Linked DNA regions of Homo sapiens. The protein of the gene in region 4 purifies or fractionates together with the protein of the main gene of each other region. This does not show direct contact. Each region holds a gene or a part of one and is shown on either strand. Other genes may lie near its edges.

Evidence for each region.
Region 1: the proteins of MYO5C (region 4) and AFAP1 purify together in Homo sapiens (affinity purification with mass spectrometry; one large-scale study listed by BioGRID and IntAct). This does not show direct contact.
Region 2: the proteins of MYO5C (region 4) and ACTR3 purify together in Homo sapiens (affinity purification with mass spectrometry; one large-scale study listed by BioGRID and IntAct). This does not show direct contact.
Region 3: the proteins of MYO5C (region 4) and INF2 purify together in Homo sapiens (affinity purification with mass spectrometry; one large-scale study listed by BioGRID and IntAct). This does not show direct contact.

Annotation. Positions count from the first base shown.
Region 1 is NC_000004.12:7,768,862-7,772,361, forward strand, and holds part of AFAP1 (actin filament-associated protein 1), read right to left. Parts: exon of another isoform or gene 3,343-3,500; intron 148-3,342; coding exon 1-147. UniProt on the Homo sapiens protein: Can cross-link actin filaments into both network and bundle structures. May modulate changes in actin filament integrity and induce lamellipodia formation.
Region 2 is NC_000002.12:113,893,089-113,896,588, reverse strand, and holds part of ACTR3 (actin-related protein 3), read right to left. Parts: intron 1-3,500. UniProt on the Homo sapiens protein: ATP-binding component of the Arp2/3 complex, a multiprotein complex that mediates actin polymerization upon stimulation by nucleation-promoting factor (NPF).
Region 3 is NC_000014.9:104,699,618-104,703,117, reverse strand, and holds part of INF2 (inverted formin-2), read right to left. Parts: intron 1,762-3,500; 5' UTR 1,753-1,761; coding exon 1,362-1,752; intron 14-1,361; coding exon 1-13.
Region 4 is NC_000015.10:52,243,805-52,247,304, forward strand, and holds part of MYO5C (unconventional myosin-Vc), read right to left. Parts: intron 3,211-3,500; coding exon 3,113-3,210; intron 2,239-3,112; coding exon 2,152-2,238; intron 1,662-2,151; coding exon 1,550-1,661; intron 764-1,549; coding exon 552-763; intron 1-551. UniProt on the Homo sapiens protein: May be involved in transferrin trafficking. Likely to power actin-based membrane trafficking in many physiologically crucial tissues.

The sequences.
Region 1 (3,500 bases), on a different chromosome or scaffold from region 4:
ATGCCCTCGGCAGGGGGAGCTGCCCGGGGCAGCCTGGCTCTTCTTCAAGACGGCCGCGCTGTTCACCGGCACGGGGCCCTCGGTGTCACTGGTGTCACAGCTGGAGATGGGCGAGTTTTCCAGGGTCCGGTGCCGGAACACTGGAGACTTAACGGAGAGAGAGAACCCCATGTGATGAGCGGTTTCTGGGCCACTGGTATTCTCCAGCAGGAAAATGATTTATTTCAAGGAAGAAATAAGTTTTGGAAATGGGCAAAAATAACAGCAGTAGCAGCAAGGACTGCCACGTGGTCAGTGCCTCACCCCCAGAGCGTCTCCTGGCATTCACGGCCGGGGGGCAGAGGCTCCGACGGGCAGGTGGAGGCTCCAAGGGGTGCTCTGACTCCCGGCTGTGCCTGGGAAGCAGTGAGGGTGGGATTCCTGCCCTAGTCTTTTGCATTCAAAGCTGGGCTCTTGCATGCAGCTGCTGCCGCCTCTAGCTGGTCCCTTTGTGCAGTGCTTTAAGGTTTTGAGCTTTTCTGGGGTCAGCGCCCTAGAGATGCTCAGGTAGCAGAAAGTGGCGGCACTCACGGCAGCACTGGCTAACGGGATGCAGCCCCACTGCGCGGGGCTCGCTGGAGAAAAGCAGGCTCCATGAGCACAGAGGCCTTCCTAGTGTTTACGGCAGCTTCCATATGCCAAAGGAGGAGGTGTTCAGGAAGGCTGAAAATAGAACAACATGTGTCCTGAGCTGCCGAGGCCCCCATTGCTGGCTCTTCCATATGGGATCCCAAACTGCTCTCTGGGGGGAAAAAAACGCCACAGTCTGCTGAGCCTTCTCTCAAATGAAGTCTCCAAGGAAGAGACGCTTCCTAGGATTCCTGCCAAAATGTGTTTGTTATGTAAAAAATATTGCTCAGGGTATATGGAATATTGTTTTAGAACAGTGTTTCAATTACCATGAAAATGGGCAGCTCGGGGTCCCCTGTGGGCTTTACTGGCCACAATCCCCAGGCAGCCAACTTGACCTATGCAGTGGCAGCCCCTGGCTGCCGGGAGGGAGCTTAGGGTAGTAGTGAGTGAATACAATGGAATGATGATCAGGACATCTGTGTCTGGCAGAGGCCAGGCTAGGCTGTGAGTAAAGGGGCAGGTGACCCAAAGACCTGCATCTCAAGAGGGGTCCACCGAATAAGCCACTCTCCCGAGGACGGCCTGGGCTGCAGCGGTGCAGAGTGCTTCCCCAGATGCGGGGACAGAGGATGGCACCAAGGACATCCTCCCTCAAAACAGAGGGGAAGTCGCAAAGCACAGTGGACTGGGAGCGGGGAAGCAGAGGCAGCAAGCCAGGCGTGGGCCCCCAAAGGATACTTGGGACAAAGGAGAAGCGAGGCGGGGGGTGGCAAGGCAGGAGCTGGAGAAGGGGCCAGAGGGAAGCTCGAGCCATGGGGGTGGAAGAATGTGGAGCCACCATAGAAGAGAGTGGGCAGCTGTGCCGAAGGGCACCGGAACCGGGGAGTGAGGACTAACATGTCCACTGGATGGGAATGCCGGGGGTCACCATGATGAAAGCAGGTGCAATGGGAAGCCACATCCAGAAAGTGAAGCTGTAGGAGGGGCAGAGGACACTGCAAGCATGCTGCAAGCATGGACAACTGCTTCCAAAGTTCACCCTGGAAGGAAAGGCAAGAACGCAGGGCAAGGGGACAGTCACCAGGGGGAGCAGGAGGCCAGGCAGAACCTTCTTTTTTTTAAGGATGGATTCAACTAGAGAATCCTTAAATGCTTGGAAAAAGCTGACAGAAAAGCTGAAGACACAGGAGAAGGATCCTCCCAGGTGTCTGGAGGTCAGGAAGGATGAGATCGAGGCACTGACCAGAGCCCAGGAAGCCCAGCCCCTCCACTCAAACAGAACCAGAGGACGGGGGCGGGACAGCTCCTCAGAGCACTCCTGCCCTGCCACCACCCTCCACGCAGGACAAAAGACAAGCAGCGTGGGGGACTGTGTGCACTCCTGCCTCAGATCACAGAGGGAGGGGCACAGGGCTCCATGAAGCAAGGGAAGACCCCTGCCCTGTCCCAGCCAATGCCTACAGCCTCACTGCCACTCTCACTGCACCTGACCCCACCATGCTCTTGTCCCCATTTATGCTGGATGAGGGACTGGGGTTGTCCAAGGCACCTCCTAGCCCTTGGATTCCAATTCCCCCTGCACCCCTCCTCCTCAGCACTGTTTCACTGTTCTCCACAGATCTGTCCGCATCTGACACCAACGTGTTTTATTGGTTTGCCTCCCTCATGAGAAGATAAGCTCCATGAAACAGGGATTCTCACCTATCTTGTTCATAACTGCAGGCCTGGAACAGTTTGTAGCACACAGAGGGAACACAGAATGTGGGCTGGGCATGGCGGCCCCCGCCGGTAACCACAGTGACTCAGGAAGTGAGGTGGGAGGATCACCTGAGCCCAGGAGTTCAAGAAGGAACACAGCATATGCATATGTGTGTATGTACACACACACACACCTTTACATATTAAATAGTATGTATCGTATAAATATATAATTGTATTTTATATATAATAGATAAATGTTGAATGAATATATGATTTTATGTAATATATAACAGTAATGTATATAATGATATCAACAAGCAATTGTTGGATGAGTGGAATGAATGAATGAATGCATGTGTATGTTTGGGAAGATGTGAATGATGTGAATGAACACAGGCGCTTCGGTGGGCACTGTGCCAAAAGCGTCCACACACAGTCTATGCAGCGACCGTTATTATTTACAGATGAAAAACTCAGGGCCTAGAGAAGTCAAGTCATTTCAAGCCCTGGCCTGTGTGACCCCAGAGCCACCTCTTGAACACCTGAAAGAACCATGCATGAGTGGCTGGGTTTGTGGTTTGGGGACAGAGCAGTGACCTGGCTGCTTGCTCAGCTCTGCAGGCGGGAGGGAGGTTGTCCTCTGGGTTGGAGGTGATCGCTGGGGTGCCACAGGAGACTGGGGCAGGGATGGGGGGATGGGAGAGGCTTGGAGGAGAAGGGGAGAGTAAGGAAGAACAGGCTGTGCGGGTGGTGCCCGGTAGGGGCCAGCAAGTGACTGAAACTCAGGGCTGCCGTCAACCCATAAATGTGTCAATCTTCCCCACAAACCCGCCCAGGGCTCATGTGGAAGAGCAGCGGTGGGTTCAACCAGGCTCAGCATTTTACTGAGGGGTTTGGAAAGAAGGACCTAGAAGGGGAGCGTTCGGGACGCAGTGGGTGGGGACCCAGGGGCACCCACGGTGTTTCGGCTGGAACAGGGGCTGAAGTCCAGCCGTCCCTCACTGGCTGCCTGTTCTGTCTGCCCTGCAGGCGTGTTTACTGCTCTGGGCCCAGTGCCTCCCTCGCTCAATGGAGTGACGGCATCCAACTCACAAGACAGGAGACTCAACAGAATGACCAAGTGGAGAAGACGTCTAAGTTCTCAGCGGTCTCAGCCGAATGACTGAAGAGGAACCAGGGACAGGGAT
Region 2 (3,500 bases), on a different chromosome or scaffold from region 4:
TCTAGAATGTTTCCAATTATAAATCATCATTCCAAATTCAACAACAAATTCCAATTTTACTCAGTTTCTTAAAACTAACTCCCTTATTGTCCCAATCACTCAGGCTTACAATCTTGAACTATTCATTGATGCCTATTTACAATCCACTGGAATCAACTGCCAAGTCCTAGCTATACCTCCTTCAATCTCTCAAATCAGCAAAAACATTTTGACTGTGCAGAGAACTGTGTGTGGTAGGCAGGCCAAGGCCTGCAGGAGATAAGAAAATAAGCATAACACACTGTATTCCTTTCTTTAAGAACTGAAACTCAAAAAAAAAAGAAAGCCAACCAATTATTATATTTAAAATATATTGTGCCCTTACTGTGTGCCAGGCACTGTGCTGAACCATTTTCACACATTATCAAAAAACAGAACAAAACAAAACAAAACTGGGCATGGTGGCTCACTCCTGTAATCTCAACACTTTAAGAGGTCAGGGCAAGAGGATTACTTGTGCTAGAAGTTTGAGACCAGCCTGAGGCAACACAGTGAGACCCCATCTCTACAAAAAATTTTTAAAAGTAGCCACACATGGTGGCATGTGCCTGTAGTCCCAGCTACTCGGGGGACTGAGGCAGGAAGACAGCTTGAACATAGGAGTTTGAGGATGCAGTGAGCCATGATCTTGCCATTGAACTCCAGTTTGGGCAACAGAGACCCAGTCTCAAAAACAAACAAAAAAAACCTATAAGGTATACACTATCATCTCCAAATTACAGATGGGAAGAAATAAGACCTGCAGAGGTTGAAGTGTATAAAGTCATATAGCTATTAAGTGATAGAGCTTGAACTCAACAACAGATAACTACAAAGCCTTTGCTACCCGTAAATAAAATAACACGAAATATAACTGCCAGAAGAAACGTAAAAAGAAAGGAAAAAACCAATCTTTTCCTAACTTATCTCTTCTGCTCCAACTCCACCGCCAATACCAGGTTTCAGAATTTCTGCAAAGTTAGCCCTTGAATGGGCTGCTGAAGAATCATCTAGGAAGCCTATGTAAATGAATATTCATAGTCCAACCCTTGAGATTCTGAGTCACTGGGTATGGGGTGTTTCTGATGCACAGTTTTTTTAAAAACCATACTCCTAATTCTTGTTCATTCATTCATACAACAAAGATTTGAATTCCTACTATGCACCAAGCCATGTCAAACGTTCATCTTCTACGGAAGGAAGATCTAGTGTAGTGGCTCTGCCATACTTACTTGCTACAGTATCTTGGGTAAGTAGCTTAACCTCTCTTAAGACTAAATTTTCTAGCCTATAAAACAAAGATAATACTTTCCAGGTTGTTGTGAAAGTTAATGAGATAATATAAAGCATTTAGCACAGGGGCTGACATACAATTCTCGATAAATGCTAGCTATTATTATTTCCTGAGAAACACAACCTAGAGAGTAATTTTTTTCTAGAGATTAAATTTAAGCAAAGTAACAAGGAAATAGTCTAGGCATTCACATATCGGCAGGGGGGTGGGGGGGGGGAACCTAAACCAAGTAAAGATTACACAGAGGGTTTTCTCTAATTAGGTGAATCAAATTCATAAGGCTGAGATTTTTTTTTGTAAGAGTTCTTTAAACAGAAATACAGTTAACTTTACTAACAACAATGAAGCAACACATAAAGTTCTGAAAAGGCAGTCAGGAGTCCCCGGAGTGTTAACAGAAAGAACACAGGACTTAAATACAGAACTCAGGTCCAAATAGCAGATCGAACCACCTGCCAGGTAGACGGCATCAAAAAGGTAATTTAAATTCTCTCATTCTGTTTTTTCACTTATAAAATTAGGTTAAAAAATAGCTGTCACAGAAAGCATGGCCAGCAGGTCCTCCACAGGACCTTTCCGTTCTGTGCCTAAAATTCTGAACTGTGTTTTACAATAAGCCTGAAAGTTCGTTCACCGCAATATAGTATTTGCAATCCAAAGTCAATATTTCAACACAAAATTGGCAGGCAGGAAAGGAGGGAGAGTCTTTCGCTAAGTCTAAGTAAGAGTCTGACTTCTCACTAGGAGCATGTCTGTTGTACTTACTTCAAACAGCATGCAAAGCATGACTCATCAAGGAATAAGAATTTCAATGAGTGCTTTTTGGTTAAGAAGCTATTGTGAATATTTCTGCCTTTGGAGATGGCTAAAGAAATAGCATTATTAAGCCGGTGCAGTGGCTCATGTCTGTAATCCCAGCACTCTGGGAGGATGAGGTGGGTGGATCACCTGAGGTCAGGAGTTCAACAACAGCCTGGCCAACATGGTGAAACTCTGTCTCTACTAAAAATACAAAATTTAGCTGGGCGTGGTAGTGGGCGCCTATAATCCCAGCTACTTGGGAGGCTGAGGCAGAAAATCACCTGAACCCAGGAGGCAGAAGGAGGTTGCAGTGAGCCAAGATCATGCCACTGCACTCCAGCCTGGGCGATGAGAGCAAAACTCCATCTCAAAAAAAAAAAAAGAAACAGCATTATTATTAAACAATACGCACAGAATTCATGGAAGAAACATGAACTTCCCACATATACCTTCCTTCATTTACCCAGCTTTTCCCCACTGCTCTTCAAACAAGATCATTCTTATCTGCACTAATTGCTGAATTGTGGCCACAAGATGAACATACTCCTCTTTCACTGACACCTACAAGATATTTAAGCTTACATTTTAAGATTGCTAAGAAGTTGAAGTCAGTTAGCAAAATTCCTTAATCTGCTCCAGATATGAATATATCCAAGACTTTGACCATAGGGCTATATTAACCTCTGCTATCATAATCAGTGGAACTAATTTACCAATATTTTATTTACCAGGGGAAAAAAAAAGACATAAAAGGGAAAAGGAAATTCACAATGCAGCTCTGTAACCAAGCTACGATATAACAAGGAGTTAATAAGGAGCGCCCTCATTTGGCTTGAATGATGGAGAAACTTGAGTAAAAACATGCATTTAAAAAAAACCTTTAAGGCTGGGCGCGGTGGCTCACACCTGTAATCCCAGCACTTTGGGAGGTTGAGGCGGGTGGATCACGAGGTCAGGAGATGGAGACCATCCTGGTCAACATGGTGAAACCCCATCTCTACTAAAAAGAGAAAAATTAACTGGGTGTGGTGGCATGTGCCTGTAGTCCCAGCTACTCGGGAGGCTGAGGCAGGAGAATAGCTTGAACCTGGGAGGTGGAGGTTGCAGTGAGCCGAGATCGTGCCACTGCACTCCAGCCCAGCGACAGGGCAAGACTCCATCTCAAAACAAACAAACAAACAAACAAAAAAACAAAAAGCAAAAAACACATTTAAAAAACGATCCCTTCCACCGCCCAGAAAAAAAAAAACCTTAGGATGATCATACAAGTGTTACAATGTTTTTTTAAAAAATGTTTGTGAATGCCTTTTAAAGAAAATGCTTTTCTCACCACTAATAGCAGGTTTGAGTTCTGTTATTTAGTTTTCAAGCCACCAATGGGAATCTA
Region 3 (3,500 bases), on a different chromosome or scaffold from region 4:
GATGTGTCCAGGGCTGCCAGGGTGGAGTGGGCAGGCTCAGCAGGGCCAATGCACCCCTTCCCATGCCTGTGCAGCTGGGCTCAGGGCTGGGGCTCTGGGCCTGGCAGGCAGACGCCAGGGGGTGCCGGGCACTTGTCTGTGGCCCACAGCAGTGGGCTGGGACCCAACGAGGTGCCCCACTCCTCGGTGTCCTGGCCCTGCTCCTGGACCACAGGGCCAGACCCTGCAGGGAAGGGCTTGGAGGCAGCTGCCCCATCCTGTCACTGGCTCTGGGCCCAGCTTTTCTCCCAATGCAGCACTTACTGTGTTTATGGCAGACACAACCTCATTCCTATGAACCCCTGCCTCCCACCCCATCTGGAGCTGTGAAAGTTCTGGGGGTGTCTCTCATCTGACCCTGCTGAGAACAATTCACAAAAGACTCCATAGAGGGGCCCTGCCAGGCCCAGGCTGGGGAGACGGGCTGAGAATGGCTGGCCCCTACACCTGCCTCTGTCCCCTGGGTCCGACAGAAACGAGGCGCCTCTGGCTTGCTTGCCTGCACAGGTAACTGCCGCCCCCATGGGCCCAGCCCCGCCCATCACTGCCCACCCTAGCTCGTCCCCAAGCATCGGTAGGACCTGGCAGCAGCCATGGAGTGGCACAGCAAGGGTTTCTCTCAAGGGACCGGGACTAACTTTGGGCACAGCCTGGGGAGACTTCCTGGAGGACAGGAAAGTGAGCTGGGGCTTAAAGGCTTAGCGGCGCAGGACCTTGGAGGACGCAAAGGCAGAAAACACGAGCAGAGGCAGAGACCAAGGGCCTGCCTGCCTGCCGGGAACGAGTCCCCTGGGTGCTGGAGTAGGGGACAGGGCGGGGAGGGAGGCGCTAGGGAAGGCGCTGGGAGGTGGAGGGTGACACCATCAGTAGGTGTGGGCCAGACCTCAAGGGCTCTGTCTGGGCTGAGGCTGAAGGGCTTGGAGCTAGGCAGGTGTATGTAGGGAGCCACTCGGGTGGATTCGCATCTCTGACTCAGTGACTCCTGCCGCCGAGGTGTGGACGAGGGCAGAGAGCCCAGAGGGTGGGAGCCAGCACAGGACGGGGAGGAAGGGTGGGGCAGAGCCACACAACAGAGAGGGGCACAGGGGGACCGCTGGTGCAGCAGTGCGGGGACTGGGGTGACCTGGAAGCCTCAGACTCGGAGTGAATGTGGATGTTTTTCCTGAGCCCAGGAAGCCAGTCCTCCTCCAGGAAGCCCTCCTTGCCTGCCTGGCTGCGCTTCCTCCTGGTGGTTCCCCAGGCCTCCCGGGGCCTTTTGGGCCTGAAGCCTCATACCAGGTCCCCAGCGTCCGCCTGGGCGGCCCTCCCACACTGCGGCTCACCCTGGGAGAGCTGGCGCACGTAGCCCTGGTTGCTGAGGATGTACTCGATGCCCTGCCGCGAGTTCATGACGGCGCGCACGCAGCTGACGCAGGTGAGCTGCAGCAGGGCGTCGGAGATACGTGCAACGCCGCGGCCCGACAGCCGCGCCAGCGCCTCCAGCAGCAGGTCCAGGCCGCTCTGCTCCAGGAACTGCACCATCCAGCCGCCGTCGCTGCCCTCCAGGCGCTTGCGCAGGCCGGAGTAGTTGACCACAGAGGGCATCTGGAGCAGCCGGATGCACAGCTCGGGGTCCGCGCTCTCCAGGTTGGCCTCCGTGGGGTCCGAATCCTGTGGCCCCAGCTTCTCCTTCAGCGCTGCCCACTTGCGCTGTGCGCCCTCCTTCACCGACATCTTGCCGAGCTGCAGGCAGAGGGCAGGGAGCCGTCAGCGGGGAGGGGATGGGGGCTGTCCTCCTGGCCACCAGCGCAGGCGGGGCCACTTCCCTCGGTCTCAGTTTCTCTGCTGCAATTCCTGCTCACGTGCCATGCTGAGGGTTAGGGGTAGCACTGTGTCCCCCACTATATCTTAGGCTTCCCTGTACCCATCCCTGACCGAATTTCAGCAACCGAGGCGGCAGGCAGGAAGGGCCCTACTGCGCGCATGAGGACCCCGAGGCTCAGGGCTGGGAGGGGAGGAGCCGGCTCAGAAACCTGCAGCACGAGGCCAGCACGGCCCCTGCAGAGTGACGGGACCGGATGAGCTTGGGGAGGACTCGGGGGAGCGGGAGGCTCCCCTGGCTGGAACATTACCCACGGTAATGATGCGACAAAACGGCGCATCTGAGGCTGCCTTATCTCACCCCAGGGCACTTCCCCCGCCCCAGTGGACAATATGGACAGGGAGATTCCAAACCTCAGGCATGCCTGGGGTGCCCACAGCGTCAGCAGCGTGGCTGGGGAGGAGGGGCGACTCCCAGGTCTCCCCTGGGCCTCAGTCTGCCCGTCTGCATGTGGGTAGGGGGCCCACACCAACAGGAAGACGGAAACCCTTGGCACTCAGGGTTTTACCAGGATTCAGTCGCAACAGGTCTGACTCCAGCCCTGGGAACACCCGGGTAGGTAACAGGCCCAGCCCAGAAGAGCCCCAACACGTGCCTTTCCCCAAAACAGAACAGCAGGACAGGCGGGTTGCACCTCTGACATCAGCTCCACGCCACCACATCCCCCCAGCCGCTGTCCCCAACCACAGACCCTGGGAACTGGCCTCGAAGGTCAGGGGCATCCCAGGCCCTCCTGCAACCATGTATGGCTTAGATCTTATATTTAGCGTCTGAGAACAGCAGCGTGGAGCCTCGGGGAGGGAGCTAGGGGGCCGGGCCTGGCAGGGACACGCTCTGAGCCTCCACCCCGGCCCAGCACTCTCCACCCTGGCCCTCGGCTTCCCACCACCTCCAAGGCAGGCACTTTATACCTCCCACAACAGGTGGGGAACTGGAGGCGGCTGGGTCCTAGAGAAGCTGGGTCTGTGCCCACAGTCCCACACCTGGGCACGGCTGGGCTGTGACTGGAGGTCCCACATGGCTTTGCTTCAAGTGCTGCCCAACCCGGTAAGTCAGGGGACCCCAGGCTGAAGGGCATTTGAGGTCACGGGAGCTGAGCGGGGTCGAGCACCCAAGCGCCTGCCTCCCCAGGAGGCTCTATTCCTCCCCTCCTGCCTTGGGAGAGTGTCCTGGAGCACCTGCCCTTGAGGTCTCAGGCCCACTCCCCAGCCTGGTCCACGACCAAGCCTGGTGTTTCCGGCAGTCCAGCCCCTACTCCCCGCACCGCCCCTCAGCCCTCCACCTGTCCAACTGCCCCAGGGGGCCAGTGGGCTCCTTCCAGGAGGCAGCCTGACAGGTGTAAGCCAGGGTTCTGATCTGCATGTCCCCAGCCCGGGCCCTCACCAGCAGACCTTGGCCCAGTCACTCATCCTGCCTGGGCCTCAGTTTCTTCTTCTGCACCTCCAGCACCAGGCTGCCAGGAGCATCCTGAGAGGCTGTCCTTGGGATGCCCCTCCTCCCTGCAGGGGGTCCTGGTCTGGGCACTGTAGAACGGAGAGCCCGGAGCCCCCGGTGCACTGTGGTTTTAAGCCACCCTCCCAGGCCCGGCCCTCTTGGTCAC
Region 4 (3,500 bases):
AGGTAGGATCAGCGCAGCTGGTGGACCACCCTCCCCTCAGCCCTTGGCTTGGCTGGGGCTGCTGTGGTCTTCCTGCTTAGGGGTTCTGTGATTGGTTTGCTGCCAGGCCTTGCAGGGACCCCCTCTGCCATGGTGCACCCCACCTGTTGCTGGCAGGCTGGTCGCTGGCTATTCTTGACATCTGTCCTTTGGATCTTCACTAGGGCCTTGCTGATCTTATGCATTTTCAGTTCCCATAGGAAAGGGGCCCCGGGCCTCTCCCTGAGCTTCCGGAACCCTGACTCTCCTTAGTAACACTCTCACCAGCGCTTCCTCCCTGCAGGGCCCTGGGTGTCGGCTCACCACACAGACACCAGGCAGAGCCAGCACTACCTGCCCCTGAGAGACGGACCTTTCTTGCCCTAATGCTCACGACCACAAAGGGGACCCATGCACGTCTGCACCCTGGGTCACAGGAGAAAGGTCCCTTGTCCTTGATGAGTCCTCCCCGCCGGAGATGATCAGCACAGAAAGCCCCACAGTTCCACATGTGTTCCTTGATTCCAACATACCTCACAGTTTGCTGACCCCGGAAGTACTGCTGGATTATCAGGGCGGCTCGTCTCTCTCGGAGGAATTTTTTCCTCTGGAGCCAGCCACGCATGTGCTTTTGTACCATAACACAACTCTGCCTCAGTTTATCCAATCGAAGTTTCTCTAAATAAGCCACTTGTCCTGCTCTGAAGAAAATTTTGGTTTTACCAAACTGGTACTGATTAGAATCCTGGAAGAGAAAAATGATATAGTTAGAATTAAAATCTGTCAGATTTTCTATAATACAGTATTTGGAAAAGAGCTTTAGGGATTCAAAGGTGCCAGAAATATTGTGATTTTGACATTTAAGGCAGAAAACTCACATCATGATCTAGAAATGTATACTTTGAGTTGTTTGTTTAAAATTACCCTGGAGGAAGAAATGGGACTTAGGCTGAGGAATCCATTTGTGGGTGAGAAGGGGAGTGAGTGTCATTTGCGGCGATTCTCAGTTGGGCTGCCAGAGAACTTCAGCCACTCTCTCGTGGTCTCCACATTGGAGTAGAAGAAACTGGGGAAGTTTGGTTTTCTGTCTCCATTTTGGGTTCTCTTCACCATCCCCTTTGCTGGACCTTATAACTCCCCATCTCTTTCCCATCACAACTCATCGCTGCAGCAATGATGTCAATCCACACAAGGCACCATGCCTGGAGCCCATGTGGCTTGGTGACAACCCCAGTTGACCATATCCTATAAGCCTGGTCCACAGAGGACTGGGTTAGATCGTGGGAGAGCTAAACAGGATACGAGGACACTGGGGAGGCCGGAGTTCGGATGTGGGTCCCTAACGGGGACTCATGGCCCACTGAGCACTCTGCTATGGTCTCTTCAGCAGACAAATGCTCAGGGCACATTTTCTTTCCTTTCAGGTGTTCATGATTACAGTCCTGAGCATTCAAGACAAAGATGAAACAGCATGTTTGGGAGATGTGCTTCCAGGAAGGAGACCATGATCCCAGGAGGTGGGGAAACTGACCTGGATGAGTCTGTGTAAAACCACCTTGCACACCTCCTTTTTATCGCTGAAGGAAAGCTCTTGCTTGGTCATGAGAATGCCGTAGCGACTGTAGAACTCGATGTATGTCCACCTGGAAAATCAAAGGGGATCAAAGCCAGGAGTGTCAGAGGAAGCACATTGTGTCTGGGGACTCCGCTGCCTTACCTGCCACTGTTGTCATAGGGCGGGGGTGGTGCAATCTGTCCTGAGGATAAAGGCACTGATCTTTGATACCCTGCCTGCCTGGGACACTACCAAGACCACCCTGAGCACTCCTGTCTGCCCCAGCAATTGTGCTCTTTCTCCCACTCAGCGTCTTCCCTAGTACACGGGGGAGGCGGTGGGGCCACCACCAGCAGCCGAGATGCAGTGATGGGGTGAGAAGGTGGTGTTGACCTCCGACCCCTACAAAGCCTATTTCTCAACCTCTTCTGGACTTCCACAGGGCAGTGGGAAAATCTTGGGGGCACTTTACAGAAGCCAAAAGTATGTGACAAAAATCATGGCAGCCATGTCCTTGGTTCTCAGCATAGCTCTGATGTCAGGTACTTTTCCCTCCAAGACAAGGACGGACAACATACCTGGAAGGGTAGCTCTGTGCACTAATGCGAATCGTTTCTAAAACGCCGCAGGCTCGCAGCTGCTGAACAATTCTTTTGGAGTCAAATCTTTAAAAAGACAATGATATTATGTGTTGAGGCATCGTAATTGCTCAACATGCCCATAAACAGGCACAGCAGACCTGGCTAGACTGTGACCCTATGCCAGGTACCCAGCAGATACTTAATAAGTTTCTATTGCATGACCAAGAAAAATAGCACCTCTGCAAAACAGTCCATAAAGATGCAGTGGGATATAGAGAAAGGAGCAGCTGACTCTGATGGAGGTGGCATTGAGAAGGCCATGGGGGAACTGGCCTTTGAGGTGAGCTTCAAACGACAACCAGGTGGAAAGAAATATGCTAGCTCGCCTGGCCCAAGCACCCACTGATGCTTGAATTTCCTCTACAGAACACCCAACAGGTAGCTCTGCAGCTTAGGTCTCACCCATCTGGTGACCCATACACACACTCACCACCTCCATAGACAGCTCATCCCCCTTTAGGCACCTCTTTCAGCTCTAGCAAGCTACAAGGGACTTGTTACACCTTATATTCACAAGCTTTGGGTCTCCTCCATGGGTCCCAGAGAACAAGAATAATGCCTCATGCCATCATGTCTGAGGACAAATGTTCTGACCTTCTATGACCTTCTACAAACACACATACTCATTCTTCTTTTAATCAAGTAAAAGGTTCAAGTTGCAAAAACTTTAGTTGTAGAAGATTCTTTCAAATCTAGCCCTTTTGCTTAGCCCTGGAGATGAGGGGGTTTAACCAGAGGGGCTGAGCTAACATTTTATGTAAAGGGCAGCATTGTTCTGAATCATTAAAAAAAAACCCAGAAACAGGGTAATCTCAAGACAATTGGAAGCAAATTCTCCAACTTTATGGCAGAAACTGCCTTCCCACGTCTTCGCTGTGTGTTGCATAAGAACACTTACTCAAAGGGTAACTTCTCATCATTTGGCTTGATGCATCGAACGTAGTGGGGCGTCGTCGCATTGAGGGTCTCCATGAGCAAGTACAGAGAGCTGCGGAACTAGGAAACAAAGCTAGAGATCAAACATGGCTCTGAAATAATTTACTGCTTACATCACGGTAAAAAGCAGCCCAACCTTGTTAAGTTACTCAATAGGAAGAAAAGTTAACCTCATGCATAAACACCTATTATGAAAGGTTTCAGTCCGTGACTGTGGTTTATCAGCATGTCCTACTGTTGTGGACAGAACACTAATACTCCCAGACAGCAGAGAACTGAATAAACCATGTTATTGTGCAAGAGCGTGGTTTGCTCCAGTGCGTGCTGCCTTGGAGGTGGAAGTATGACGA